4 linked regions of the Homo sapiens genome follow. The protein of the gene in region 1 purifies or fractionates together with the protein of each later gene. This does not show direct contact. Each region holds a gene or a part of one and is shown on either strand. Other genes may lie near its edges.

Region 1 (7,590 bases):
AAAATAAACTAACCCAGGAAGATATAATATCATAATTGTAACATTTAAAAATATATGTGCAAAAATGCTGATAATACAGCTGGGCGCTGTGGCTCATGCCTGTAATCCTAGCACTTTGGGAGGCTGAGGCAGACAGATCACTTGAGCTCAGGAGTTTGAGACCAACCTGGCCAACATGGTGAAACCCTGTCTCTACTAAAAATACAAAAATTAGCTGTGCATGGTGGCAGGGGTTTGTAATCCCAGCTACTCAGGAGGTTGAGGCAGGAGAATCACTTGAACCCAGGAGGCGGAGGTTGCAGTGAGCCAAGATTGCACCACTGCACTCCAGCCTGGGTGACAGAGCGAGACTCTGTCTCAAAAAAAAAAGAAAAAAGGCCCAGTGTGGTGGGTGGCTCATGCCTGTAATCCCAGCACTTTGGGAGGCCGAGGCAGGCAGATCTCTTGAGGCCAGGAGTTCGAGACTAGCCTGGCCAACATGGTAAAACCCCATCTCTACTAAAAATACAAAAAAAATTAGCCAGGCATGCTGATAGGTGCCTGTAATCCTGGCTACTTGGGAGGCTGAGGCAGGAGAATCACTTGACATTCTCAAGTGGAGGCAGAGATTGCAATGAGCCGAGATCATGCCACTGTACTACAGCCTGGGCGAGAGTGAGAGTCCATCTCAAAAAAAAAAAAAAAAAGGCTGATAATTTTTTTTAAATTTTCTTCTTTGTGCTTTAATATTTTTAATGTCTAACAACAATTTGTCTTATTACTTGTTTATTATTTAATTATTTAAATTATTTAAAGTTAATAATAGATTAAGGCAACTACTTATGTTTTAAGTGAACAAAAGTATGTTTGTATAACATTTGTTAATTAGAAAGCTATTTCACAAATATAATACTTCACAAATAATACTTTCACAAATTTATCGTAATGTTGCATGGGAATGAAACTTTAGAAATGAACAATGGCTAGCAAGACATTTATTTTCAGAGTCTCAGAAAGGAAAAACATTAGGGACATAAAATTTTTTTGTATCTACCTTCCCATATTTCTCTTTCAGGAGCAGTGTTGAGTCCTTCAGAGAAGAGTTATCAGGAAGGTGGATTTCCAAATATATTATTCAAGGTAGAGTATGTGTGCATAGAAAATGAGCCTTGAACTTTGTTGCATGTATAATTGAGCATAAGGAATGAAATTAGCAGGCAGAAAAATGCTGGATTTGCCGGCACTTTTTAAAAATCAGAAATGCCTTTGTTCTCTCATTATTCTCTATTTAGTTGAGGATTTAGGAAATTAGAGATTTATAAATATTTGAGAAATTAAGAGCTTTCTGTTCTCAGTGATCTGTCAGAGATGAGACTGAGAACTACTAAGGATGCTGTGATTTATACATTTGTCTTAACTCAGCTTTTAATTTTCCTTTTTTGGTTGGTGTTTTGCATGTCACTGTTAGTTTTTATTAGAGCAAACTAGCAGTGATCATTTTTATAGCATTAAAAGTAATTTAAAATTGACTTTGACTGACTATGACATTGAAACTTGAGTTTTTACTGTTGGTGTGAAAGCCTTAAATATGGCAATGAATGCTATTAAATAAAGTGAAATAACTTTGATTTCTGCTAGCTTTCTTTTAAATTAGGTTGCACTCTGTTGCACTGCATAGTCCCCAGGGAGCTTTGGATTTGTGTTGAGGCTCTGTTCTTTCTAGATGTATGAAATGGAATTACTTTAGTATATATTTCTTCTCTTAGGAAACAGCCAATGTCACCGTGGATAATGTTCTTATTCCTGAACATAATGAAAAAGGTATGAAAAAACCAGTTTTTTTCCAACAATTTTTTTAAAATCATACTTTCATTTAAGTGAATTAAGAGGGAGAAATACCCAATAAACACAATAATCATTTATATTCAAATTCGGTATAAAATTTCATAGATATTAAAATAACTTCAATTTGATTGACACTTATAGTTCTAATAGATGATATGTTATTATGTTAAGGCTCCATTGGCTAATGAAGAATGCAATTGTGGTCTCTTCACACGGGGGATATTTTAGTTTTTTGTTGGTAAAATTTGCTATGTTTGTGTGTCATGGGAAAACATTTTTAAAATTATGTTGAGATTTATATAGTTTTAGAAATGCTCACAGCAATTACAGAAATCTTTCAAGATGATTGTAGAGCAATGCTGAAGGTCAGTATGAAAATCTAGTTATCTTCCATATCAACTTTCCTACTTTATTAGTAGGAAGAATAATTTAGTTCCACCTGGAATCATTCTGATAAATGTTAAAGACTATTTAAGGCTGCGTTGCCTAGTCTTTGCCACTAGATCTGATGCTTCTTTCATTGAAAAAAGAATTAGGAAAGTTAGATAAGGCTTTGGTTCTTCAACAATAAGGTCTAAATCAAACATTAAGTGTCTTCAGAGAGGATTTTGTATTAGCTATGGAAATATAGCCAAAGTTGGGTTCTGAAGGACATAGCCAAACTTTTCCTTTTCAATTTGTATTTGATTCCTGTTTGCATGTTTTCTCCCAATCTCCACTTTGGGTGAGTTTTTAAAAGGCTGAATCATCTTTCTAATTCACTCTGAGGAAGTAAATTAGGCAGTTAGAGGATTTGGCACATGAGAAGTGTTTCTATCAGTCATGCTTGGAGAATATTGCTTAGTCATGTCCATATTTCCACTTCCATAATTTTTTAGTAGTTTTAGGTTCATAGTGGGTCAACAGCAACACATTGACCTAATGACCAGAAAATTGAATCTTGGAAGAATTTCTTCCACTAAGCTCTTTGGCTGATCTCTTTTGAGAGGAGGTAAAAATCACAATGCTGCTGTCCGAAGAAACCCTTTGCTCTGTGGAATGGTGGGAACTAGATCCAAGTAAATGTGCAGAGAGCACATGGTGGTCTTCGGCTTTGGTTCCTGGGCCTTTCTCTACTAACCTTCCACTGGACTCTGATTTGTTTCTAATATAGAAATTTTGGTTATAATGGTGATGTTCCTTCTTAGCTAACTTATCTTCCCCCTACTTTCCTTCCTAAGGAATACTGCTTAAATCTTCCATCAGCTTTCAAAATATCATAGAAGGAACTAGAAATTTCCACAAAGACTTCCTAATTGGAGAAGGAGAGATTTTTGAGGTATACAGAGTGGAGATTCAAAACCTAACATATGCTGTCAAATTATTTAAACAGGTATGGAAAGAATTACTGTCACAGGACATCAGTTCCACTTATTTGTTCATCTTTCATATTAAAATATGTCATTTTTCATCAACATTGAAAGGGGTATTTGAAAATAAAATTTTATAAGTGGAAATAAGAGATATGATTTCAGATGACTGGAGAAGTAAAGACCTGTCTTGCAAGAATGAGGAAGTTAAATGCTTTCCATCCCCAGATGTTATAGCATGAAAGACTTTTCTGGGCTGGGTGTGGTGGTTCACGCCTGTAATCCCAGCACTTTGGGAGCCCAAGGTGGGTGGATCACTTGAGGTCAGGAGTTTGAGACCAGCCTGATCAACAGGGTGAAACCCTGTCTCTACTAAAAACACAAGACTTAGCTGGGCGTGGTGGTATGCTCCTGTAGTCCCAGCTACTTGGGAGGCTGAGGCAGGAGAATCGCTTGAGCACAGGAAGAAGAGGCTGCAGTGAGCCAAGATTGCACCACTGCACTCCAGCCTGGGTGATAAAGTGAGACACCACCTCAAAAAAAAAAAAAAAGACTTCTGAAAAGTCTCCAGGACTTTGTTAAAGAGGGTCAGGTAGTGCTAGCCTGCCCTGATTTTCTTGGATTTTTAGGATGAGCCGGGTCCTCTCCAGGCAGCCTCACAGGCTAAGCCACAGTTTGGCATTTGGTACTGCTTTATAAATTGTCTTCTATCACAACTCAGAAGGGTGGAAGGAGGAGGCTTTCGAGTAGGAACAACAAACCAACAAACAGAGTAGGAGGTCAGAAGACAGTTGATTGACTGCAGCCAATGAAGCAAAAAGGGAATTCCAGGATCAAGCTCAGGAGTCAGTCAGAGATAGGTCCACACACAAACACAGAAGAGCTGCTCTTCGTTTTCTTCATAGTTGGTCAACAATAAGTAAACATTTACTAAACTCTTATATGGACTGGGTGCTGAGCATGTAGAGATGAATAAGGCATAGTTCTGTCCTCAAGGAGCTCACAGTCTCTCTGGTGAAATAGCCAGGAAAACAAAAGATTAAACTGTTGTAAAAGAGGTACTTTAGCGAGAATTGTACAAAAGATCACAGAAGCACATAAAAGATAGCAACTCTCACAGCCATAAAAAAGAATGAGTTCATGTCCTTTGTAGGGACATGAATGAAGCTGGAAACCATCATCCTTAGCGAACGAACACAGGAACAGGAAACCAAACACTGCATGTTCTCACTTGTAAGTGGGAGTTGAACAATAAGAACACATGGACACAGAGGGGAGGGGAACATCACACACCCAGGGCCTGTTGGGGGGTTGGGGGAAATGGGAGGAAGAGTATTAGGACAAATACCTAATGCATGCGGGTCTTAAAACCTAGATGATGGGTTGATAGGTGCAGCAAACCACCGTGGCACATGTATACTTATGTAACAAACCTGCATGTTCAGCACATGTATCCAGAGCTTAAAGTAAAATTAAAAAATAAATAAAAAAGAAAAAAAAAGAAAAAGAGGTTTAATGGACTCAGTTTCACATGGCTGGGGAGGCCTCAGTATCATGGCAGAAGATGAAAGGCACGCCTTACGATGCAGACAAGAGAGAAGTTGTGCAGGGAAACTCCCATTTTTAAAACCATCAGATCTTGTGAGACTTATTCACTGTCACAAGAACAGCACTGGAAAGACCCACCCCCATGATTCAATTAACTCCCACTGGGCCCCTCCCACAACACGTGGGAATTGTGGGAGCTACAATTCAAGATGAATTTGGGTGGGGACACAGCAAAACCATATCAGAAGTCTATCTGAAAAGGTTACATACCATATGATTCCAAGTATATGACACTTTGGAAAAGGAGGAACAATTGAGACAGTAAAATATGGTGTCTGGGTGTTTGGTAAGGGTTAGATGAATAGGCAGAGCACAGATGATTTTTAGGGCAGTGAAACTACTCTGATACTGTAATGGTGGATACATATTATCATATATTTGTCAAAACCCATAGAATATACCACACTAAGAGTGAACTCTAGTGTAAACTACGGTAATAATGATATGTCAACTTAAGATCATTGATTTTAACAAATGTACCTCACTGGTGTGAGATGTTAATAATTGGGAAGCTGTGTGCATGTGTGTGGGAACGCCTTACTTTCCTCTCAATTTTTTGTAAATCTAAATCTGCTCTAAAAAATAAAGTCTACTAATTAAAAAAAAAAAAAAAAAAGATAGCGACTCTCTCCTCCCAGAGGAGGGCTGTGTCTGGCACCCAGAAGAGTATCTGGCCAGAGTAACCACTCAGTAAACAGTTCTCAAAAACAAATGGGGAAACCATCCAGCTGGATTTTGAAGGATGAGTAGAATTTTGGCAGGCAGTAAAGGAGGGGAATTACATTCCTGGTGGAACAAATAGCAGTTGCAGAGACCTGGAGGTGTGTGTATGAAAACGTAGGTCTTCCTCATGAATAGCATTTCATTCAGTGCAGCGGACTGGGTGTAGGGAAGATGGTGAGAAGAGGATGCTGGAAAGATATTAAGTCTGTGGGTGATTTTTAAGTAGGAGACTGAAAGATTTGTGTTGTTAAAATATGACTTAGATTCTAGGTTAGATAGTGGATTGGAAGTTGGCAGAAGAATTGGGGGAAAGATGGCAAGAGCTAGCTGGAGGCAGGCTGGGCATGGTGGCTCATGCCTGTAATCCCAGCACTTTGGGAGGCTGAGGTGGGCGGATCACTTGAGGTCAGGAGTTCGAGACCAGACTGGCCAACATGGTGAAACCCTGTCTCTACCAAGAAATACAAAAAAAAAATTAAAAAAAAAATAGCTGGGTGTGGTGGTGCCTGCCTGTAGTTCCAGCTACTCGAGAGGCTGAGGTGAGAGGATTGCTTGAACCCAGGAGGCAGAGGTTGCAGTGAGCCAAGATCACGCCACTGCATTTCAGTGTGGGCAACAGAGTAAGACCCTATCAAAAACAAAACAAAACAAAACAAAACAAAACCACCAGACTGGAGGCAGAAAGACCTGGTAGAGGGATATTTCAGATGTGCAAACCAAGAAATGGACAGGGTATAAACCCGTGTTCCCAACCCTGACTATATATTAGAATTATCTAGGAGCTTTTTAAAAAAATGAGCCTTTAAAAAAATTGACTTTTAAAAAAATGGGCCTTTAAAAAAATGAACTTTTAAAAAAATGGTAGTCACCAGTATTTTTTAAAAGGTCCCAAGGTGGTTCACATGTGTAGCCACTGTTGAGAGTTAATGCTGTTAGCCTGGGCAAAGTCAGTGAGGATGCAGAGGAGAAAGCATGTCTAAGAGACGAGGTGAAGTGGACCACATCTGATTATCTGTTGGATAGGAGTGGGGAAGAAGGAGGGTTTCAAGGTGATTCCGAGTTTGCAGCTTGCATTACCGTACCGTTTTAAAAATTATTTACCTAATTTCTCCATTTCTCCAAATTGCATTTAGTACTACTTAATTGTACATAGAAATCTCAAAATTACTGAGAAGATGAACAGTCTGCTAAAGAAACAACCAGCTGGCCCAACTATTCAACAAATAGAATGTGGTTGCTCTAGAGGTGGCCAAGCTAAAGCCTGTTTCTTAATGCCAATGTGTCCCTGGCCCCAATTCGTACATTGTCTTATGGTTGAGCCTCAGGACCCCATCCCCAAAGGGTCCGTCCAGTCTACTTTCCTACTCTCTCTGCAGCTGCCACCAAATCACACTCCCTTTTGGGAGTTTTCTTTCCATGAGTCTGAATGGTATTGATTGCTTCTAGAACCCCTTCCCTTTCTTTCTTAAAGAAAGGTGTTATTTCCTGGATTGTCTTTGACCCCTCCAGTGTGGTTTGGGTGACACTCCTATGTGTAGCAATAGCATCAAAGCATTACGTTATTCACCCACCTCTCTCAAAGGACTGGGCAGCTTTTTTTGAAGAGCTCTTATTTGTCTTTGTATCCTAGTGCCTTATTACAGGGCCTTGCCCATAGTAGCTCAGTAAATGTTTGCTGGATAAATTGAATGCAGCATACATACCCTTTTCAAGAATTTAGTTGCTAGTTGTTACGAGTAAAAATACCTGAGATTACCAAGGTGTGTACAAAGTCTTACTGTCTCTACATACATTTTAACTTTCTCTTAAGGTGGTAAATGAAAGTATGGCCGGACTTTGCCCTTCTGCTTTTATCTCCGCCCCCTATTTTAACCCAACATGCACACACACACACACACACACACACACACACACACACACACACTTATCAGGAAAAAATGAGAGCATTTAATGAAGCCTTAGCCACAGAACATTGTTAAAGAAATGCAGTTTTGTAACATTGGTTCATTACCAATTACTTTTCTTAGAGGGACTGAGGTGGGAAATTGTACTAGGTGTGTTAGATCTGTGCTTCTCTAACTTTAAT
Region 2 (7,590 bases), on another chromosome or scaffold:
CATCTGCTGCAGGCACACTGAACAGCAGGTGTGCTTGCAGTCCAGCAACTTGGGCCTGCGCCGGGGGCTGTAGTAATTGAAACAGATCTGACATTCCAGCAGAGAGTCCTGGGACAGCGTCTCCATGGTGGACCGTGAGCAGGAAGGGCAAGGCCAAGGTGAAGGGGAAGGAGCTGCTTCTCAGAGGCCACCGCCCTGTGTCTTTGCAGTGCAGGTAATGGCAAGCTCACAGGCATCCAGTACTCACAGGTGTGTTCATTTCTGAGAGAGACAAATAATGCAAACAATCTTAATTATTTCAAAGAAGTTGAGATGTCAACATATCTAATGGATTTATACCATTGCTCAAAAGTCTTGACACTGGGCCAAAAGCCTAAAAATTTACCAGTCTTGAGACTACAGGATTCCCATAACGCCCAGTGAAAGGCGAATGAAAGTTGTCTCAGAGAGCATGTCATGGCAAATACTTAGTTCATTTCTAAAAAAATGAACAACTCCAATAGTTGTAGACGATGCATCTGTATTTCATAAAGAGGGCGTCTTTTGTTTCTGTTTTGTACATTTAAGCAAGCTCTGGGTCATCCTTCTAAAATATACTAGAGAAACTTTCCTGCTTCCAATAAGTTCATAGTATTTCCTAGAAGTAAATTTCTCTCCTTAGATCCTCTGACCTTTTTTCCTGACTCTACTTACCCACTTGTAAGTCTTAATTGCAAGATTTAGGCAACTTCACAAACCTAGGTACTTCCTATAACTAACTCGCTCAGTTTACATATATGGGTTAGGATTGTTCCTCTTCACAGAGAAGTAAAGTGACACTGCAGAAGAAGCACACGAAGGCATCTTTCATCTTTCCCAACAAATCATTTGAAGAGAACAAAACAAAAAACCCCAAACAGCAACAAAACCAAAAGCAGCAGTGAAGCTTAAGGCAGTGTGGATCACAAAGGCACACTCATCACAAAGGCATCACTGACATTTTCCAGTCAGTTCTTTTTGTTTCATTACTACTTAGGCTTGTACCAAGTAACACAACTAAAAGCAAGTACGATTGACCCATGAACAACACAGGTTTGAACCACATGGATCCACTTAAGTACGAATTTTTTGAATAGATACGGTCAGCCCTTTCTATGAGTGGGTTCTGCATCTGCGACCAAATGACATCAAAAATACAGCGTTCTCAGGATGCAAAGCCCCTGTATACCGAGGGCCATCTTTTCATATTCTTGGGTTTTATAGCACCAACTGTGGGCCTTGAGTATTCACAGGTTTTGGTATACATGGGGGTCCTGGAACCAATGCCCTCAGATAGAGAGATGACTGAACCATTAATTCACTAATTGAAATCAAATATTCTATAGTTAAAGGTTGACAGGGAAGTCTGGCAAGCATTCCTCATTGTAAAAAAAAAAAAAAAGTGTTAGCATCCTGGTATGGAGGGGAGGCAGAGAAACTTAGTTCAACTTCACTGAAGTTTGGGAATGTCCTCTAACGCTCCACTGGCATTTCAGTAAGGGCTGCCTGACTCAGTTTCCCATTGAAAGCATCCAAATTATGTGTCCCTGGATGGAGCCATGATGACTCTAGAAAGAATTACTCAACCACTATTGCAGAAAAAATTGCTAGTCCTAGAACCCCACCAACACCTAGAGATGGGAGCTATAACACTCCTTCACATTTGTCTTAAAAGTGACCCTTCTTTTTCCTTTCCAATTTCCTTTGTGAAATTAAGAAAGCACTCCCCCATCATGATATATAATGTGTTAACAATCAAAATTAAGAATGCACCAAAAACCAACCTGGCCGGCGTGGGGGCTCACACCTGCAATCCCAGCACTTTGGGAGGCCGAGGAGGGGGAATCGTTTGAGCTCAGGAGTTTGAGACCAGCCTGGGCAACATGGTGAAACCCTATCTCTACAAAAAATACAAAAACTAGCCAGGCATGGTGGCAAGCACCTCTAGTCCCGGCTACTCAGTAGGCTGAGGTGGGAGGACCACCTGAGCCTGGGAGGTTGAGGCTGCAGTGAGCCGTGTTTGCACCACTGCACTCCAGCCTGGATGACAGAATGAGACCCTGTCTCAAATTAAAAAAAAAACAAAAAACAAAAAACAAGAAAAAGCAAACCAGTTCAAAGACAAAAATAACCACTGTTAAAAACTAGTAACAATGAAAAGATCAACATACTTTAAAATACATTAGCTATATTAGAAACACTTAAGTTACTGAAAGTGAAATACAGTAATGTAGCATTCAGGAAGTTCATATCAGGATCAACTACATAGCTATCCACTAATTCAAAAAATATTTATGGAATATCTATTATGCACAAAGCACAAAGCTAAATACTGTAGGATATAAATCAGACCCAGATTCTACCCGAAAACAACTTAAACCTAGGTAAGAAGGAACACACGAATATATTTTTTCTTTCATTCATTTATTCATTCAAATTTTCATTGCATATCTACTATGTGTCAAGCGTGATGTTCCTTTTTGTCCCTTGTAACTAAGATCTTGTCATTGCCCATAAGAAAGTCCTGGCCTAGAGATGGGAGCGCTAAGTACTTAGACAATTGTAACGTAAATACAAGGTACCCTAAGGGAGCCGAAGGAATCAGGGGGAATTTAGTGAAAAATCTGGATTATCGAATTAGACACAAAAAATCAGGGGACAGGCTATTTTCAGGTTATGGAATCAGCATGAGCAAAGGAAAGAAGGTAAGCGATTACAGAATTATTTTCTATTCTACCTGGGACACTGGCTAGAGGATTGTTTCTAATACTAGAGCAACTTACAGAAGTCTTCTCTAAGAGTTTGATCGTTTTAGCCCTTACAGTCTCTGATACAGATGTCTTTTAAAGAAATAAAACTCTCAGAGAACCTGCAAGCACTCTCCCCAGACCCAACCAGGGATAGCAGATCCCACAGGGAGGGGAGAAATGAGCTTAGTCAGGCACAGGCCAGAGACTGTGGACCGTGGGCAGCCCCCAGTGCCAGGCCAAGGATTCAGGAGTTTAGAGTGAGCAATGGGAAAACACCAGAAAGGTTAAGAGTAGCAGAACAATTCATTCAAGGGTAGACTGGAAAGACCTATTGGGAGGCTATTACATTAGGCAAGAGTTAAATGAGTAGCTGAAGTGAATAGTGATGATTAGGACAGAATGATGAGATGTGAGAAGAGGTTCACAGAATTCCAGCAGGATCTTGCAGGGTATTGCAATGAGGTTGTACAGTGAAAGAAGCCAAAAATGAAGCCTTTAGAGGAAGGTAATATCATTATGAGAAATAGGGATCATGAAGAGAAATACAATGAGTTCTGTTCAGGCCATATTCCACTGGAGGTGCTGGGGAAGGTATTTAAGTTATTTAGGAAGATATTAAAGAGTCAAAGAGAAGGTCAGGCACAGTGGCTCACGCCTGTAATCTCAGCACTTTGGGAGGCCAAGGCAGGTGGATCACTTGAGGCCAGGAGTTTGAGACCAGCCTAGTCAACATAACGAGACTCTGTCTCTACTAAAAATAAAAAAATTAGCTGGGTGTGGTGGTGGACACCTGTAATCCCAGCTACTCAGGAGGCTGAGGCAGGATAATCACTTAAACCCGGGAGGCGGAGATTGCAGTGAGGCAACATCGCACCACTGCACTCCAGCCTGAATGACAGAGTGGGACACTATCTCAAAAAAAAAAAAAAAAAAAAAGAATCCGGCCGGGCATGGTGGCTCACGCCTGTAATCCTAGCACTTTGGGAGGCTGAGGCAGGCGGATCACGAGGTCAGGAGATCGAGACCATCCTGGCTAATATGGTGAAACCCCGTCTCTACTAAAAATACAAAAAATTAGCCAGGCATGGTGGCGGACGCCTGTAGTCCCAGCTACTCGGGAGGCTGAGGCAGGAGAATGGTGTGAACCCAGGGGGCGGAGCTTGCAATGAGCAGAGATCGCACCACTGCACTCCAGCCTGGGTGACAGAGAGAGACTCCGTCTCACCAAAAAAAAAAAAAAAAAAAAAAAAAAAAGAGTAGGATAAAATTCTTCTATAATTTTATATCCAAGGTAATACATTTTTTTTTCTTAAAACAAAACAAAATACAGGGTTCGTTGGTGAATCCTGCTCTATCTGTCTCCAGGTGAAAGTGCACAGACAGCAATCAGGTGAGACTATGATTGACTCTACTGAGATGTAGCTGTGCCTGCGGGGAAGGATTGCTCACGTTGAGCTACGGGTGGGTAGGAACAATAAAATTGAGGCAGGGTACAAAATTTTACAGACTCCTGCAATTTTATGAATTTGGAGAGACTTTTCCTTAACAGGAAAACCCTCAATTGCAAATGAGGCTGGGGACAAAAATGTTTCATGACATCATATCAAAACAGTGACCACCGATTTATGTATAAACCTTCTTTCTTTCCATACTATTTACCTTAACTTCTACATCACAATGTGGGAAGTAGCTCAGCAGAGTGGGAAGACTGGAGGTTTGGGACTCAAAGAACCTTGGGCTCAAAGCCTAGCTCTGTCACTAACCAGCTGTGATACCAGGCCAAAGTCATTTACCTTCTCTGAGCCTGCTTTCTCCCTGGCCAAGCAGGGATGATGGAGTTGTGGCTGAAGGTCAAGTGAGCTCATGGGATCCACATACTTCCACACAGTGAAAGGTTCAGAGAGGACAGTGCTTGTTCTCCACTTCCTCTCCACTCAGTCTAGTGCTCTGCACTGAGGCACATATCTGCCCAGAGGCACTTCCTGGCTATCAAAGAGCTGCCACTTGGAACAGCTTGGGAGGAGGCATGCAAGTGTTCTTCCTGGCCCTGCCCCAAGACCTGCGTACCATCATTGGTCAACAAAACCAATATGCAATTTTATTCATGAATTTATGTTCCAAGTAATGTTCCCTTAATTTGTGTTAAGCTCCCTTAAAATTAGATTATCCTATTCCATTTCCAACTCTATCCAAGTAAGTTCTAGGCCTTACAAGCCATTTTGACAGCAGCCTCTCTGATTTATGCACTGATTTGTTCTACATGAAGCCAGCCTGTACTGCATTCCAGTTTATTTTCTGGAGCGTAATTAGTAATGATGATGATTCGTTAGGTAAAGAGAAGGAAATTTATGAGGCTATGGAGTGAAGCTAATGATGGATCATTCTTTCCCCCTTTCATCATGAAGTCTAAAGATGTGCATCAACTATAGAAGAAAGAATGGAAACAAAGTCCATGTAGACCAGAAAAGAAATTCAGAGTTCCCTGTCAAGCGTGTTATAATAAACACATATCAGTGATTACTTTAGAGCAAGGGTCTCCAACCCCCAGGCCACCAACCAGTACCAGTCTACAACCTGTAAGGAACCAGGCTACATAGCAGAAGGTCAGCAGCTGGTGACAGACAATTACCGCCTGAGCTCCACCTCCCGTCAGATCAGCGATGGCATTAGATTCTCATAGGAGCACAAACCCTACTGTGAACTTCACATGCAAGGGATCTAGACTGCACACTCTTTATGAGGATCTAACTAATGCCTGATGATCTGAGGTGGAACAGTTTCATCCTGAAACCATCGGTCCCTACCCATCCGTCCTGTGGAAAAATTGTCTTCCACAAAACCCATCCCTGGTGCCAAAAATGTTGGGGACTGCTGCTTCAGAGACCTGTTTGGCCTTGTTTTCCTTACAGGAAGAGCAAGATGTGATACTCCAATAAAATACTCATTAAGATTTAAAGGGAAAGAGTACTTCAGTAGAATGCATAAGAACAAGTATATAAGAAAATATATGAGAACAATTTTTAAATGTCACCACAATTTATTTGAGAAAAACTTAAAGTCAAGATCAAAGTGAAAAACAGACCACAAAGAGAAGAACAGTGGCTCGGGGAGGGCATTCTTAAAAAATAGATGGCTCCCAAGATAGAACTTATTTCAAACATAACCTCATAAAACAGTACATAGTTACATAAATAATATTAATTGAACAATATATAGATAAACAAAAGGGGTCTTTGTGTTGTTGTTGCTGTTGTTATTTTGAGGCCCTAGATATTTTGTGCTTTTGAAAGTCCTTTACAATAACAATTTACTTTCACAAAATAAAATTTCTTTTTAAAAACTATACATAATTTTATGCATCTTTTGAAAAGGTACAGGTGTGACAAAGTGCGCGCATTCATTTGGTAGGTGGTAAAATAGCAAAGATCTCCAACATTGAATTTTTATAATCCCAGTTGCTTTTAGAAGTCTAGGCATATGAGCCCAAGGATAAAAAAAGCCAGTGAAGTAGATAATCCAGATAGTTTTACTCTGCTTACACTCTTAAGAATCTTCATACATTCTGTGACAGTGGGGTTAATTATGAAGTCTCTCTGTGGAGTTGTGGCCTGAGCTGATATTGATTACATCGGGCTGACCTTGAAGTGTTCCATTTAATAGTCTCTATGAGGACCTTAAATTCAATGGTTGTGTTGAGAAAAAAACTCAAATGCAGAGATTAAACTAGGCACTACATTGCTTTTCTTTTCCTATTGAAATAGCACATCTTTCTGATACAGGCCATCTACTTAAATCTTCAACAAAATATAAATATTTGAAATGGGATTAAACAAAATAATCACAATTCCATTTCATCTGGTATTTCAGCTGGCTTGCCAGCCACTTAGTTATATTGGATCTTAGCAAACACTCCAATTAGTGGCAAGAATGGGAATGCCCGGTGACAGATGTGTCATTGACTTTTTGTCCTCTGGTAGCAAAGAGCAATCCTTCCAGGACACAACTGCTGCATACATGCGTAGTCCAATTGACGTAACTACAGTCATTGTTTTAATGGAGCAGGACTTTGACAAACCTCAACTGAGAATTCCATTGGCTCGAGCTCTAATATTTGCACAGTTTCCTCCTATGAGCATCCTGGTTTGCTGTATTTGATGAAGCAAAGAATCCAGAAAGTGAAAATTGTCGTTTAAACATGTTTTTTGTTTTTTTGAGATGGACTCTCACTCACCCAGGCTGGAATGCAGTGGTGCAATCTTGGCTCACCGCAACCTCCGCTTCTTGGGTCCAGGCTATTCTCCTGCCTCAGCCTCCTGAGTAGCTGGGATTACAGGTGTGCACCACCACACCCAGCTAATTTTTTTTGTATTTTTAGTAGAGATAGGGTTTCGCCATATTGGCCAGGCTGGTCTCGAACTCCTGACTTCAACTGATCTGCCCGTCTCAGCCTCTCAAAGTGCTGGGATCACAGGCGTGAGCCACCACGCCCAGCCTTTTGGTTATTTAAGATGTTTACATATTTAAACAGGGAATAGGGCAGGCGATGCTGACAGTGCTGGAGGCCAACTGGCCCAGGTGGCAGAGGCAGGCAGGATGGGACAGAGAGAATAATACTGGTTGAACCAGACAAAAGCAGCACACCATCCAGAAGGCCAAGGTCACCCCAGGGACTCACCACACAACTGAAGGCCTGGCCCTGCCAGCACAGCCCACTAGGTCAACTGTGGGCCCAATTGGCCTGGCTGCAGCCTAGGTGCTGTCCCTGTCTGGATGTGCCGTGGAGCCAAGGGCATCCTGTGCCAGGGGACTCTGCTAGGGCATG
Region 3 (7,590 bases), on another chromosome or scaffold:
AGACAAAAAGCTCCATGATTTCAGAAACGATGCTGTGTCCACCCGTGTGCAGCACATGGTGCTTTGTACATAGTGGGTGCTCAATCGATATTTGCTAAGAAAAGGAAGGAAACTAGAAATATAACTTGATAGAAGACGCATCCTCTGTCCCCTCCCTCCAACTATCCATAGTGATCCTTATCCAAGAGCACATACCTGGAGCAAACCGGAATCGTAGAATCCTGGGATGTCAAAGGCAAAGCCCTGGCACAGCACCCTATCCATCCAGCCCTTCAGGATGGCTGGCACGCTGAACCAGTACAGCGGGAACTGTGGGCGGCAACACCAAAGAGAAACTGAGGCTGCGGCTCGCCTCAGGTTTCCTAGTTTAGTTTATCTGGTGATTCGGAATGAAGCCCACAGCCCTCCTCTTCCCTGGCAGCTGGGCAGGTGAGGGTAACCCTTATGGTCAGCTCTGAAAGGTGCAGTGTGGGTGTCAGACGGGAACGGAGTTGACAATGGTCCTTGTTGCTGTTACAGGTAGCTCTGCATCCCCCAGTGATGACAGCCCCTGATGCTGGCCCTGGGCAGGCAGGGAGGGGACGAGGAGCTGTGCGTAACACCAGCTTTGGAGCAGCAGTCTGTGATCAAGCCAGTCAAAAGGAAGAGTATGGAAAAGCATGCCCCTTCGCCTGCCTGGGGTGTGTTGTTAGCATCTGGAAGTCAGACTGAGTTCGGTGCTGAGCATCTATGGATTTAGACACCAACTAAAGTCATGTTTGTATTCCTTAGACCAGCGCTAAGATCTCCCTATCCCATAGATGCCCTAACATTACATCCAGTGTTACCGCCTGGGAAGGGAAATAAACATAGGCAATCATCTGTTACCAAAGGTGGAAGCCAATGTCTCTTGTGCTTTCCATATAAAACAAACTCAGGACTTGGCATTGAAACCCAAGCTCCACGACCTGCTGCTGTGTGACATTGGCAAGTTACTTGACCTCCCTGTGCCTCCTTTTTCCTGATTCATCAAATAGGGCTACTAATAGTTCACAGCTCACAGCATCCTGGTGAGGATTCGAAGACACACCACAGTGCCCAAAACAGAATCAATGCTCAGTGAGTGGTGGGCTCTGATATTAGTAGTGCAGTAGTGATGAATGAAATTTTTATTAATGTTGAATAAAAGAATAACTTATAATGCAGACCCTCTGGACAAACTATCAGAAAAAAAGGGAAAGTAGGGAAATGGAGTGAAATGAAGTGAAACAAAAGAAAGGCCATTATAGAAAGGCCAGGTCTTAGCCTACCCAGCCACCGGGTTATGGGAGTGGAGTGGGTGCGAGGAGGAAAGCGGGCTCCACGTGGCCGGCCGACCCAAGGGGGACAGGAGAAGCAGAGCAGAGAGCTCAGCGTGGCTCTGCTGGGACCACGCACCCCAGGATACAGGCCCGTCATACTGGCATGGTATTAAGACGGAGATGGTAAACCACATGGTCACCTAGGCCTGAGGACTATGAGTCCACCCACCTGTAATTAGGACAAAGGACGTCCTGCACTTTGGTCAGATTAGCAGCTCAAGGTCACTGAGTAAAGAAAGGGCTGGTGTCGGGAAGGGGTGTGCAGAGGCAAGCCTGGGCAGGGATGAGGCAGCCCTCTTCCCGCACATGCAGGTTGCTTTTATGAAGGCTTGGGAACCTCATCATTCTGGAAAGGTGGTTTTGTCTGGAAAGTGGTCACATGCCGCTCACCCCCTGCCTTGCCCTCACATGGCGGACTCATGCGAACAGTGCTCTCGTTCTCCTGCCCACTCCGCATCCTCAAGCAGGGTTGGAAAACAGAAATGATCTGAACCAATCAGATCCCTTGGTTGGAAATTCTGGATCTAGGGGATCCAGTCCCTGGCAAGCAGTGAGAGAGAACAGAGCCAAGAGGCAGAAAGGAGCAGATGGGAATCTGTGGACGAGAGCAGCTACAGCTCTGTCCTTGGGATCCAGGAGGCCCAAGTGACCAGAGCCCTTATAATAGATTCCCCTTTCCTTCTAGTTGGACAGGAATTTCTGTCACCCAACAATTCCCTCAAAGCTCATGTGCGTACTCTGCTGCCAGGTTTACACAGCCACAGCCATGCCTGCACATCTTCCTTGCAGTGGCGGGAAGTGGCCTGATGAGTCAGCACTCCTGGAGGGCATTTTGCTGGGCCAGTTCACTCTGCAGTGGCATCACCTCCTTGTGAACAAATACAGGAAGGTGGCTGGGCTGGGGGTGAAGCAACCACTGAGAGGGTAGAAACCAGAGATTTTCCTCTTAATGATCAGGATATTTAAGGCAGGATATTTAAGGAGATGCATTTGGCCTGATTTACCCTGATAAACATTTGTGCAGATAAATGTGGTTCTCAAGCAGCCCCAGAATGTCTCAGGGCAGGAACGGGAAGAGAAGGGAAGCAACAAGACTGGCAGGTTTCAGATGATTCTTGGACCACTGGAATAATGGAAATATCCTTCATTCCTATTTACATGGCAGTCGGGATTTGGAGTGAGTGATATTGGCTACGTGGATATCTTTACCCAATTAGGTAAAGTGTTTAAAGTAGTGTTACATCGGCCGGGCGCGGTGGCTCACGCCTGTAATCCCAGCACTTTGGGAGGCCGAGGCGGGTGGATCACGAGGTCAGGAGATCGAGACCATCCTGGCTAACACGGTGAAACCCGGTCTCTACTAAAAATACAAAAAACTAGCCGGGCGTGGTGGCGGGCGCCTGTAGTCCCAGCTACTCGGGAGGCTGAGGCGGGAGAATGGCGTGAACCCGGGAGGCGGAGCTTGCAGTGAGCCGAGATCCCGCCACTGCACTCCAGCCTGGGCGACAGAGCGAGACTCCGTCTCAAAAAAAAAAAAAAAAAAAAAAAAAAAGTAGTGTTACATCTACGTACAGTGTTTAAAGTAGTGTTGTAACTAGATGAAGTGTTGTAACTAGGTGAAGTGTTGTAACTAGGTGAAGTGGTGTAACTAGGTGAAATGTTGTAACTAGGTGTTGTAACCAGGTTACAATATTTGCTCAGTAAGTGTGCAACTGTGCTCAAAACATTGATGCCACTTCCAGAAGCAGCACAAAACTCAATATTCAGAAAGAGTTTGTACATAAGATGAATCTGATTCAATATATTAATTAGAGAAAAACAAACCTGAAATATCACTAGGTCAGCCTCCCGAACCTTTTTCTGCTCATCAGTGATGTCGCTAGCCAGAGACCTTTGCTTGTAGGCTTCGTGGGTTTCCACTCCATAATTGAAAACCTCAGGATTAGAAAGAGTACCTGTCGGGGAAGAGGCCAAACATTCTCACTCCTAGGTGGGCATCCACAGCCCATCCCAACCATCCCAGTAGCACTGTGTATACCGGACTCCTCAGACAAGTCAAAGACATTTGCTGCAACCTGACCAGAAGCTGCACCCTGGGTCCGAGCTAGGGAAAGAGAAGCAGTCTGGGAGGGCTGCTGATTGAGCACTTGCTACCTAGCAGGTGCTGTGCTCTACACACATCACCTTTCTTCATAACAACTGGTGAGACTGGTGTATTTCCCAATTTACCAGAGAGCAAACTGACACCCAAGAGAGGCTGGATGTCTTGTTCAATGCCAAACAGGTCTAAAAAAATAAACTCTACGCTTTAATTTCATGCTCACCTCCACATTTTTGAGTATCTGTGTCTTGATTTACATATTTTATATTGCTTATCTTTGGCTCTTAACAGGTCACGTAGTGATTATTGTTTTTGATAGATTTGTCTGTTAGACTTAATACTAGTAATGAGTGGACTGTACACAATTACAGTATTAGAGTGTTCTGTGTACTTACTTTTACCAGTGGGTTTTACATCTTCAAATGTTTTCTTTTTGCACATTAGTGTTTTTCTTTCTTATTGAATTCCCTTTAGCATTTCTTGTAAGGTGGGTCTGGTGGTGGTGCATTTTCTCAGCTTTTCTTTGTTTGGGAAAGACTCTCTCTCTTTCAGAGTTGAAGGCTAGATTTGCTGGGTACAGTATTCTTGGTTGACAGTTTTGTTCTTTCAGCACTTTGAAAATGTCCCACTACCTCCTGGCCTATATGTTTTCTGTTGAGAAGTCTGTTGCCAGATGAACTGGAGCTCTGTTACATGTTATTTGCTTTTAGGATCCTCTTTTTGTTCTTGACCTTTGAGAGTTTAATAATTATATGCCTTGGGGTAGTCCTATTTGAGTCAAATCTGTTTATTCTATGACCTTCCTCTACCAGGATATTTATCTCTTTCTGAAGTTTTGGAAAATTTTTCTGTTATTATTTCTTTGAATAAGCTTGCTATGCCTTGCTCTTGCTCAGCTTCCTCTTAAGCACCAATCATTCTTAGATTTGGTCTTTTGAGGTAATTTTCTATATTTTGTAAGAAATCTCCATACCTTTTTCTTTTTTCTCCTCTGTGTATTTTCAAATCACCTGCCTTTGAGTTCACTGATTTTTTCTTCTGCTTCATCCATTCTGCTGTTGAGAGCCTCTAATGAATTTTTCAGCAAATGTATTTCTAGTTCCAAGATTTCTGTTTGATTTTTTAAAAATTATTTCAATCTCTTTGTAAAATTTAACTGATAAATTTCTGAACTGCTTTTCTGTGTGATCTTGAGGATTACCACATTTCCTTAAAAGTGCTATTCTGAATTCTTGGTCAGAGAGTCCAAACAGTGCCGTCTCGTTAGGTTCAGTCACTGGTTCCTTGCTTTGTCTGTGTGGAGAGGTCATGGTTCCCTGTTTACTGTTGTTTCTTGTGGATGACATCTATTTATTTCAGTCTTCTATGTCTGACTTGTTTTCATTTTTATTACATATATTTGCTTAGAAAGTCTTTGCAACTTTCTTATTAAATTTTTTTTTTTTCCTCTACTAAGCCACCACCTGCTTTTTGGCACTAGATGGTGGTTTATGCCCACGTTTGCCTCAGCTCTAGTAACCTACTGTTCAGAGTGTGCCAGTCCTGAATATGAGAGGTTCCAAAGGGGATAGCATGGTAGTGTGGGAAGGCTGGCTAGCAGCTCATGCCCAGGAAACCTGCAGAATGTACCTCCTACAGTGTGGTGCTGCTGAACAGCCACTCTGGTTTGGCATCTCCTTTGGCTAAGTTACAGATCAGAGTTTCCAGGGCTGGGGACAATATTCCCATCTCCCTCCTTTGTCTCTGGCTGTTGTCAGGGATATTTCTCCCTTTAGGCACTCCTGATGCTTCCTGTGGGTTGAGGCAGGAACAGGTCTCCTTCCTGCCTGTTTCTGGGAACCCCAGAAAATTGAGAAGCTGATTGTCCCCCTTGATCTCTTTTCCAGTGTAGAACCTGTGACTTGGGAGGAAATTTCCCACACAGCTGGTGCTGGGTAGTTTGTGGGGAGGGGTGTCGTGGATATGATAGTCCAATCTCTTACCGTCTGCTTGGAGTTGTTTCACTTATGTGTGGTCTTGGGAACTATTTCATCTTCATATTTGACTTCTGGGATACTGCTGGTGATAATCCCAGTGCTATCTATTTGTTTTTGGAAAGTGAAGCTAGCTTGCTTCTATAATGCCATTTTGCAGCTGGAAGTCAACATTTTTTAAAGTAAAAAACATAAAGATGGTTTTTATAAATAGAGCATTTATCCCATGACTCACCAGTGATATCTTTGTCTGTGGCCCTCGGCTCAAGGTTCATGGCATACAAATCAGACACTGTGACGGTGCAGCCCTGCCTGCTCAGTTCATCTACAGCCACATTCTTCAAGGATCCGTTGAAAGACTTGGGTTCCTGGTGTGCATAGACAATGAGTACTTTCTTACCTAAATCAGGATAAGAAACAGTTCCTCTTGAAGAACAACCTCTCTCTGTTAAATTCAATGAAGACTAAGATGAAAATTGAATGTTCAGGTGCATCATAGTAATTGAAGCTAAGAAATATCAAATTTTCTTTTCTTTCTGTCTCTTTCTCTCTCTTCTTTTTAGACAGTCTCACTCTGTCACCCAGGCTGGAATGCAGTGGCATGATCTCAGCTCACTGCAACCTCTGCCTCCCAGGTTCAAGTGATTCTCATGCCTCAGTCTCCTGACTAGCTGGGACTACAGGTGTGTTTCGTGGGAAGTCAGGGACCCCGAATGGAGCAACTGGCTGAGGCCATGGCAGAAGAATATAAATTGTGAAGATTTCGTGGACATTTATTAGTTCCCCAAATTAATACTTTTGTAATTTCTTATGCCTGTCTTTACTGCAATCTCTGAACGTAAATTGTGAAGATTTCATGGACAGTTATCACTTCCCCAATCAATACCCATGTGATTTCCTATGCTTGTCTTTACTTTAATCTCTTAATCCCATCATCTTCATAAGCTGAGGAGGATGTATATTGCCTCAGGACCCTGTGATGATTGTGTTAACTGCACAAATTGTTTGCAGAGCATGTGTGTTTGAACAATATGAAATCTGGGCACCTTGAAAAAAGAACAGGATAACAGCAATGTTCAGGGAACAAGAGAGATAACCTTAAACTCTCACTGCCGGTGAGCCAGGCGGAACAGAGACATATTTCTCTTCTTTCAAAAGCAAATGGGAGAAATATCGCTGAATTCTTTTTCTCAGCAAGGAACATCCCTGAGAAAGAGAATGCGTCCCTGAGGGTGGGCCTCTGAAATGGCCGCTTCGGGGCGGCAGCTGTCTTTTATGGTCCAGCTGTAGGGATGAAATAAGCCCCAGTCTCCCGTAGCGCTCCCAGGCTTATTAAGACAAGGAAATTCCTGCCTAATAAATTTTGGTCAGATCGGTTGTCTGCTCTCAAACCCTGGCTCCTGATAAGATGTTCTCAATGACAATGGTGCCCAAAACTTCATTAGCAATTTTAATTTCGCCCCGTCCCGTGGTCCTGTGATCTCGCCCTGCCTCCATTTGCTTTGTGATATTCTATTACCTTGTGAAGCATGTGATCTCTGTGACCCACACTCTATTTGTACACTCCCTCCCCTTTGGAAAATCACTAATAAAAACTTGCTGGTTTTACGGCTTGGGGGCATCACGGAACCTGCCGACATGTGATGTCTCCCCTGGACACCCAGCTTTAAAATTTCTCTCTTTTGTACTCTGTCCGTTTATTTCTCAGACCGGCCGACACTTAGGAAATATAGAAAAGAACCTACGTGAAATATTGGGGGTGAATTTCGCCCAATATCTGGCTGAATTTCCCCCGATAGATGTGTGCCACTACGCCCAGCTAATTTTTTGTATTTTTAGTACAGATGGGATTTTGCCATGTTGGCCAGGCTGGTCTTGAACTCCTGGCCTCAAGTGATCCACCCGCCTTGGCCTCCCAAAGTGCTGGGATTACAGGCATGAGCCACCGCACTTGGCCAGAAACACCAAACTTTCTTTTCTTTCCTTTTTTCTTTTTCTTTTTTTTTTTTTTTGAAACAGAGTTTCGCTCTTGTTGCCCAGGCTGGAGCAACGATCCCAGCTCACTGCAACCTCTGCCTCCCGGGTTCAAGCAATTCTCCTACCTCAGCCTCCTGAGTAGCTGGGATTACAGGCATGCGCCACCACGCCCGGATAATTTTTTGTATTTTTAGTTAAG
Region 4 (7,590 bases), about 22 Mb from region 1:
AGCAGAGCGTGGTGGTGGATGCCTGTAATCCAAGCTACTCAGGAGGCTGAGGCTCGAGAATCTCTTGAACCCGGGAGGCGACGGTTGCAGTGAGCCAAGACCGCGCCATCGCACTCCAGCCTGGGCAACAAGAGTGAAACTTGTCTCAAAAAAAAAAAAAAAAAGAACATACAGGGAGAAAAGAGACAATGATATAAGAACACAAGAAAGTACCAATCCATGAAGGATAGGAGATGGCGTTTCTTTTCTCATCTAGGGTCAGTTCCTCTGCTTGAGCTGCTTTCTACATTCTCAGTAACCCTACTGAACACATCATCTCATTTCTCTCTTCCATACTATCCTCTCCCTTTTAATCTGGATCCTTCCTATAGGCACATAAGCACAGCTTAATCTCTGCCAGCTTAAAAAAAGTTTCCTGAATGACTTATCTATTTCTAGCTGTCCCCTTCACTAGTAAAATGTCTTAAAAGACTTGTCTATACTCCTATCTCAGTTCTCTAGCTCTCACTCTCTCAACTACAATGTGATTTCTAAACCAACTACTACCTGGAAATGGGTTTCCATAAAGTCACCAAAGACCATGGTGATGCTAATCCAATGATTAAAGCCCTTGACTCTTTTTGACTACTCCCTCTTGGGAAACACTTTCTTTCCTCGTTTTCAGGGACTCCACACTCTCCAGGTTTTCATCTTACCCTTCTCTGTATGTGTACTTCCTTAGATTCCTTTTTGTGATCATCTCTTCTATTTGGCCATTAAGTCTTAGGGTTCCCCAAGACTTAATCTTGTGACCTTTTCTTAATCTACATCTCCCCTCAAGTGAATACAGTCACTTCAATTATCACCTGTATGCAAGTAATACACATTTATATCTTCAGCTCAGACCTCCAGCTCCAAATCTGTATATCACACTGTCTACCATCTCTACTACTACATCTTAAAAGCACCCCAAACACAACATGTACAAAAGAGAATTCACATTTTCTAACCATCTCTCTAACCCCAACCTAACCAAGTCTTTTTTCAGTCCTTTCTACATAAGTGAATCATGCCATAATCATTCCAGAATGCAAGTCTGGATGCCATTATTCCAGGAGTCATTCCTGATACTTCGCTCTTCCTGAACCCCTGCATAGCCAAGGTATCAACAAGTTTTGCCATTTTAATCTTTCTAATCTGCTCCCCTCTCTTCTTATGAACTGCCACCTATGATAGCCTACTAACTGCCTCTTCTTACAAACTGTTCTCTACACTAGAGTTAAAATCATCTTTGCAAAACTTAAATATGATGCCATATTCCTACTTAAAATTTTCAACGGCATCTCATTACACTTGTGATAAAACTAAAAGCCTTACCTTGATCTATTAAGTCCTATAGGACTTAGCTTCCTACACTTCTCTGTAGTTTTATCTCCAATCCACCACCCTATAACTTTCTGCATCTCAGTCATACTGCATTTACTTCATTTTTTTTTAGACAGAGTCTTACTTTATTACCCAGGCTGGGGAGCACTGGCACGATCATAGCTCACTTCAACCTTGAACTCCTGGGCTCAAGCCTCCTCCCTCCTCAGCTGCCCTAGTGTCTGGAACTGTAGGCATGCAATACCACGTTTGACTAGTTTTTTTGTAGAGATGAGGTCTTGCTATGTTGTTCAGGGAACATAGTCAGGTCTGCTACTCCTGGCCTCAAATGATCCTCCTATCTTGGCTCCCAAAGCATATTTCATTTCTTGTAACTCATCATGCTCCCATATTCTGTCTCACCACTGGTCTTACAAATGCAGTTCCTTCTGCCTAGAATGTTCTTCTCCCCATCATCCATTCTACAGTTACCCTCAAATTGTGTCTACTTATTTCCTGCCCATTCTTTGAATCTCTGCTTAAATGTCACTTTCTTGGAAACCCTTCTTTATATTAATCCTATGTACTATACTATATAATAATAATACATATAATATATATGTGAACTGTACATATTAACATTCTATAATTATTTTGTGCTTATTTGATTGATGTTGAGCTCTATATATGAATATGTTACTTATAGTAGGTAAATATTTAACTAGATAAATACACAAGAAAGAAAGAGAACTGAAAAGTACTCATGGAGGATGAAGGTGATTCAGAAAAGAATAGTGATCCATAAACTAAGAAAACAACTAATTTCCATAAGGCAAAAGTGTCAAGAAGAACAGAATAAACTACTATTAAAACAAACAAAAAAGGTCAAGTAGGATGAGTACTGGAAGTAGGTCACTGGGCTTGGAATAAAGGAGATTATAGATGTCCTTATTGAGAAGAGCTTTCATGGAGTGATGGGAAAAAAGTCCAGATGCTCTAGGTTAAGACCTGCATATGAATCGTGAATAGAGTGACAGCAAATTATTCTTTAAAGACAGCTTTCCAAAAACTTTTAAACAGTAGCATTTACCTTTTAATATCTCTATGAATATGATGATTTTCATGTAGAAAATTGATGCCATTAGCTGCACCCTGAGCAATCTTGCATCTCATGTGCCAAGAAAGTGGTGGAGTACCATCCTTATAAAGAAATAAACCAAATTAAAAATGAGAAAGAATAATAAAAAATCTACAGAGAATATATAACACAGAATATTTTTCTAGGCAACAACTGAAGATGATGTTATAGCATTAATAATTTAGGACTACATTTTTAAGTTATTAAAAATAATATCTAAATAAGCTCAAATGGGTGTTTACATTTGTTATTTGAAGATAAAAATATATAAAAGCATCTTCCTAGTATAGTCTTAACTGAATTCTACATTTAAGATTACCACCTAATAAAATGGCAACCCAGTTGTTGACATATCAACTGTATAATTTGTTGACATATCAACTGTATAATTTTCATAGAGCAGGAAAAATATGAAAGTGAATTTGGTTTAAATAATCCAGTAACAAAATGAATATTAATATTCCAGCATATAAACAAAAAGCCAAACAATCTGATGAACAAATAGCTTACCAAGCAAGAGAGTCTGTCTAGCAATGAACCATTAGGCATGTAAACATATACTAAGCAGAGGTCATCTCCATCACTTGAGAAACCAAGTAGTTCTACTAAGTTTTCATGTTGACACCTGTGACAAATAATTTTTCATGCAAAATTATTATAATAAATATATATTCAGCTATAGGTTGGAAGTTATTCAAAGTTTTAATAGAAAAAAAGAGCAAAAAAATAGTATGTTATATATTATTTCTAACTTGATGTTTATGTTTATATATGTTTATTGTAACTGTTTATAATTTTCTGCAAATACTTCTCTTTTCAGCCAGTATTAATCAACATTAGAAGTAAAACCTCTTTTTCTTTTTTTTGAGACAGGGTCTAACTCTGTTGCCCAGGCTGGAGTGCAGTGGTGTAATCATAGCTCACTGCGGCCTCGACCATCTGGACTCAAGTGATCCTCCTAACTCATCCTCCCAAGTAGCTTGGACTACTGGTGTACACCACACTCAGCTACTTTTTAAATTTTTTTGTAAAGATGAGGTCTCACTGTGTTTCCCAGACTGGTCTCAAACTGCTGGCCTCAAGTGCTCCTACCACTTTGGCCTCCCAAAGTATTGGGATTACAGGTGTGAGCCACTACAGCTGGCCAAACCTCTTTCTATTTTACAGTAAAAGCTAAATAATTCAGATTTTTGGAACTTGTGATAAGTTTGGTTAAGGACTAGGCTGATGCTCACTTTCTTTAGCCCAATTTTCAATGATGGCACAAATAAGATTTCAAGAAGTCCGTTGAATTTTTATGCTAATACTGTCAAGAATTTTCTAACACACTCAAAGCACTGATTTACAGACATGATCTTGAATCACATCTAATTTACATGTTTTTGATCTTTAATCACACTGGATTATTTATAACCTAATTTGAGTGTCTTTATATACTTGAGAGTAATAAAACTAAAGAGACCTACAATCTAATAAAGTGGCAGCATCTGTGGTAAGACGAAAGAAAACAGGGCTCAGAGTTATACATCCTAAATTTAAAGTCTAGTTCTGCCCCCTCCTGGATATGTGACCTACCGCAAGTTAACAGCCTTACTGAGCCTCAGCTCCTTTATCTGCTAAATGCAGAAAACAGTATGTAATATGGATGCTGAGACAATTAAATGAGCAAATGTAAACATGACAGCCTAGAAACGTATCTGGCACATGATAAGTGTTTTATTATTTAAGTGCTTATTCATTTTGTTCATTCAAAATGATCCACAATTCTAGCAGTTCATTATATCAATTTCTTCTAGTCTCATAAATATTTGAAGAAGTGCAAATTAAAACAGTAAGTGTCCCATTTTCCACCAAACTGGCACATTTTAAACATGAGTAGTTAACGTTTGCTGAATTTATACTATAAACGAGGCAGTGTGGCAAGTGATTTATCTGTTTTATTTAATCCTCACAATAACTTAAGTAAGTACTATTGTCCCATTTTATAGATGAGAAAATTAACGAATAGAAAGTTAAAAAACTTGGCCAAGTTCATTCTGCTAGTAAGATCCAGAGACTGGCACTTATTAAAAAATTGTAATAATAGGCCGGGCGCAGTGACTCACGCCTGTATTCCCAGCCGAGGCAGGCAGATCACGACGTCAGATCTAAACCATCCTGGCTAACGTGGTGAAACCCCGTCTCTACTAAAAATACAAAAACAAAATTAGCCGGGCATGGTGACGGTCGCCTGTAGTCCCAGCTACTCTGGAGGCTGAGGCGGGAGAATGGCGTGAACCTGGGAGGCGGAGCTTGCAGTGAGCCAAGATCGCACCACTGCATTCCAGCCTGGGCAACAGAGCGAGATTCCGTCTCAAAAAAAAAAAAAAAAAAAAAAAAAGTAATGATATTAAATGAAGGTAAGGAACCAGTAAAGTTTGAAATTGTAATACATTGCTGGTAGTAACTTATCTCAAAAGCCATTTGAATGTGTATTTAGAAAGTCTTTAAAAAGTTCATGCATTCCTACCTAGTAATTCTTTTTCTAGGACTTTACCCTAGATGATAAAGTAAGTATAACTGCATTTAAAGATTTATGTGCAAAGAACTTTAAAGAAGCTTTATTTTTAATACTGAAAATTAGAAACAAACCTAGCTATGGTTAAATAAAATATGATTTTCACATATGCTAGACTGTTGTACAATAATTTAAAATGTTTTCAAATTATTTTTAGTGACATGGGAAAATGCTACACACACATCATGAAGCAAGTATATAAAAATATTAGCAGTGGTTATCTCTGAGTGATATATTTGAGAGATGGTTTGTATTATTAAGTTCCGGGATACATGTACAGAATGTGCAGGTTTGTCATACAGGTAAACGTGTACCATAGTGGTTTGCTGCACCTATCAACCCATCACCTACGTATTAAGTCCTGCATGCATATAGGCTTGTATATTTTAAAAATGTTTTCCTGTATTTTCCAGATGACCTACTGTGAACAAGTTACTTTTAGAATTGGAGAGTAGGGGTAGGAGTGAAGAAGACAAATCCTGAAAAAAAAAGTTTGATCTTTTTTCAGCATGTATCATTTTTACCGTGCATAAATCAATTCTAGTCTATTCTTCTTACTTGAGGTTAGGTAACTATGATTGGTGATTTACAGCAGTGGGTTTAATGGGTATAATTTGGTAAATCCCATTACGATTCAGATCTAAAGTTCAGGCTCCGCAATCAAACAGATCTGGATTTCAATCCCATCTCTAACACTTACTGGCTATGTGATCTTGGACAAGCTATTTAATGTTTCTAAATCTCAGTTAACAAACAAAATGGGCAGTTGTAACAGTTGTAAGGGTTAGACAGACAATGCACATAAAGTACATAGCACAATGTCTGGCATGTTGCACACACTCAAATATCAATCACTATTAATCACTATAATAATTAGAATACATTTCCTACTTTGTCCCTCCTACTTTTCCTGATGATGTCCAACAATTTTCCAGCACACAGGATCAATGCCTTCTAAGCATCCTTACAGATAACATGACTCTAGTTGCTCTATAGATGCTACTTTATATATAAGGGCCTATTACTCTATAGATAGTTGTTTTTAAGTATCTCTACAATTGATCTCTCATGAATTCTGGAAGTGGAAAACATGATAATGAAGGACATGATAGTGAAATTTCACGTAACTTTGTTGTGACTTAAAATAATGACTGCGGCCAGGCGTGGTCACGCCTGTAATCCCAGCTCTTTGGGAGGCTGAGGCAGGTGGATCACAAGGTCAGGAGATCGAGACTATCCTGGCTAACACGGTGAAACCCCGTCTCTACTAAAAATACAGAAAAAAATTAGCCAGGCATGGTGGCACACGCCTGTAGGTCCAGCTACTCGGGAGGCTGAGGCAGGAGAATCGCTTGAACCTGGGAGGCAGAGGTTGCAGTGAGCCGAGATCATGCCACTGCACTCCAGCTTGGGCAAAAGAGCGAGACTCTGTCTCAAAAAAAATAAATAAATAAAAATGACTGCTATTTAATCTCCAGGCATATGAGTATATGTAATCATAGAATTATGGAGCCAAAAGTACTTTCAATTTCTCTAATCTAAACACTTTATTTTAATTTCATATATGTGCAAACATCACTAGTTCATGGCATACTCTAGAGTGAACCAGGTTCTTTACTCCTTGTCTTTTTTCTTTCCACTACACCGCACTGCCAGATTAAGACTTACTTTGCCATTACTTTTATTTCTTGATCAAACTGCTGTTTCAGTTCTTCAGTAGTAATGTCAACCATCTGAAAAAATAAAATATACAATGTAATACTACACAATTCTAAGGTTCCTAATGCTCAGAGGGATCAAGAGATCAGCTGGCTCATCTCCCTTTCTTTAAAACAATAGTGTATTATTCTCCCAATTCTACAGAATAACTGAGATCTAGAAATACTAGTGATTTGCTCAAGGCCCATGGCTGGTTAGTGGAATGAAAAATATATATAAATTTCACTGAGTTGTGGAAACAAAATGAAATAACACGAAATTTCACTACACAAAAAAATTTGAAAAAAATTCTAGGAAACAGAAAACATAAGCAATTTAGGTGCAAAATGGAAAAAAAAACCCTACAAAAGCCCTGCAACATATATGACAAAGAGTGACTATCTTTATCACATACATATGCATTCTATTGATATTTTTAGGCTCTAACAAAAGATTTAGAATATAACAAGTAAGTAAAAGGTAAACACCTCAGTAGAAATGGCAACAAAGGACACAGATAAAAAAAATTTTAATGTTTTTTCTTAATGTATACTTCCTAAATTTTATTTTTAAATGGGAAAAGTAATGCAAACAAGGTTTTTTAAAAATAGTTTTCCTGGTATCTTACCATTTTAATCTTGATTACACATGAAGCACTATGTGGAGCAGGGCTTCTCAACTTTAGTTTGTGAATCTCCCAAAATTGTATGTATGATCTTGTGTACATGGACATAACCACATTTTTCTAGGGGTAGGGTCCATAGTGTTCAACAGATTTTAAAATTTTAAGAACTACTATTTAGAATGATGTTTATTTAAAGAAAATACATACTGAAATAATGTATTTCCTAAA

Evidence for each region.
Region 2: the proteins of IRAK3 (region 1) and RNF152 purify together in Homo sapiens (affinity purification with western blotting, with the first as the bait; one study listed by BioGRID). This does not show direct contact.
Region 3: the proteins of IRAK3 (region 1) and NQO2 purify together in Homo sapiens (affinity purification with mass spectrometry, with the first as the bait; one large-scale study listed by BioGRID). This does not show direct contact.
Region 4: the proteins of IRAK3 (region 1) and IRAK4 purify together in Homo sapiens (affinity purification with mass spectrometry, with the first as the bait; one large-scale study listed by BioGRID). This does not show direct contact.

What each region holds. Positions count from the first base shown.
Region 1 is NC_000012.12:66,208,402-66,215,991, forward strand, and holds part of IRAK3 (interleukin-1 receptor-associated kinase 3), read left to right. Parts: intron 1-1,054; coding exon 1,055-1,119; intron 1,120-1,745; coding exon 1,746-1,800; intron 1,801-3,044; coding exon 3,045-3,196; intron 3,197-7,590. UniProt on the Homo sapiens protein: Putative inactive protein kinase which regulates signaling downstream of immune receptors including IL1R and Toll-like receptors.
Region 2 is NC_000018.10:61,816,338-61,823,927, forward strand, and holds part of RNF152 (E3 ubiquitin-protein ligase RNF152), read right to left. Parts: intron 262-7,590; 5' UTR 127-261; coding exon 1-126. UniProt on the Homo sapiens protein: E3 ubiquitin-protein ligase that acts as a negative regulator of mTORC1 signaling by mediating ubiquitination of RagA/RRAGA and RHEB.
Region 3 is NC_000006.12:3,008,249-3,015,838, reverse strand, and holds part of NQO2 (ribosyldihydronicotinamide dehydrogenase [quinone]), read right to left. Parts: intron 5,815-7,590; coding exon 5,650-5,814; intron 3,296-5,649; coding exon 3,165-3,295; intron 310-3,164; coding exon 196-309; intron 1-195. UniProt on the Homo sapiens protein: The enzyme apparently serves as a quinone reductase in connection with conjugation reactions of hydroquinones involved in detoxification pathways as well as in biosynthetic processes such as the vitamin K-dependent gamma-carboxylation of glutamate residues in prothrombin synthesis.
Region 4 is NC_000012.12:43,773,147-43,780,736, reverse strand, and holds part of IRAK4 (interleukin-1 receptor-associated kinase 4), read right to left. Parts: intron 6,773-7,590; coding exon 6,708-6,772; intron 3,108-6,707; coding exon 2,993-3,107; intron 2,545-2,992; coding exon 2,435-2,544; intron 1-2,434.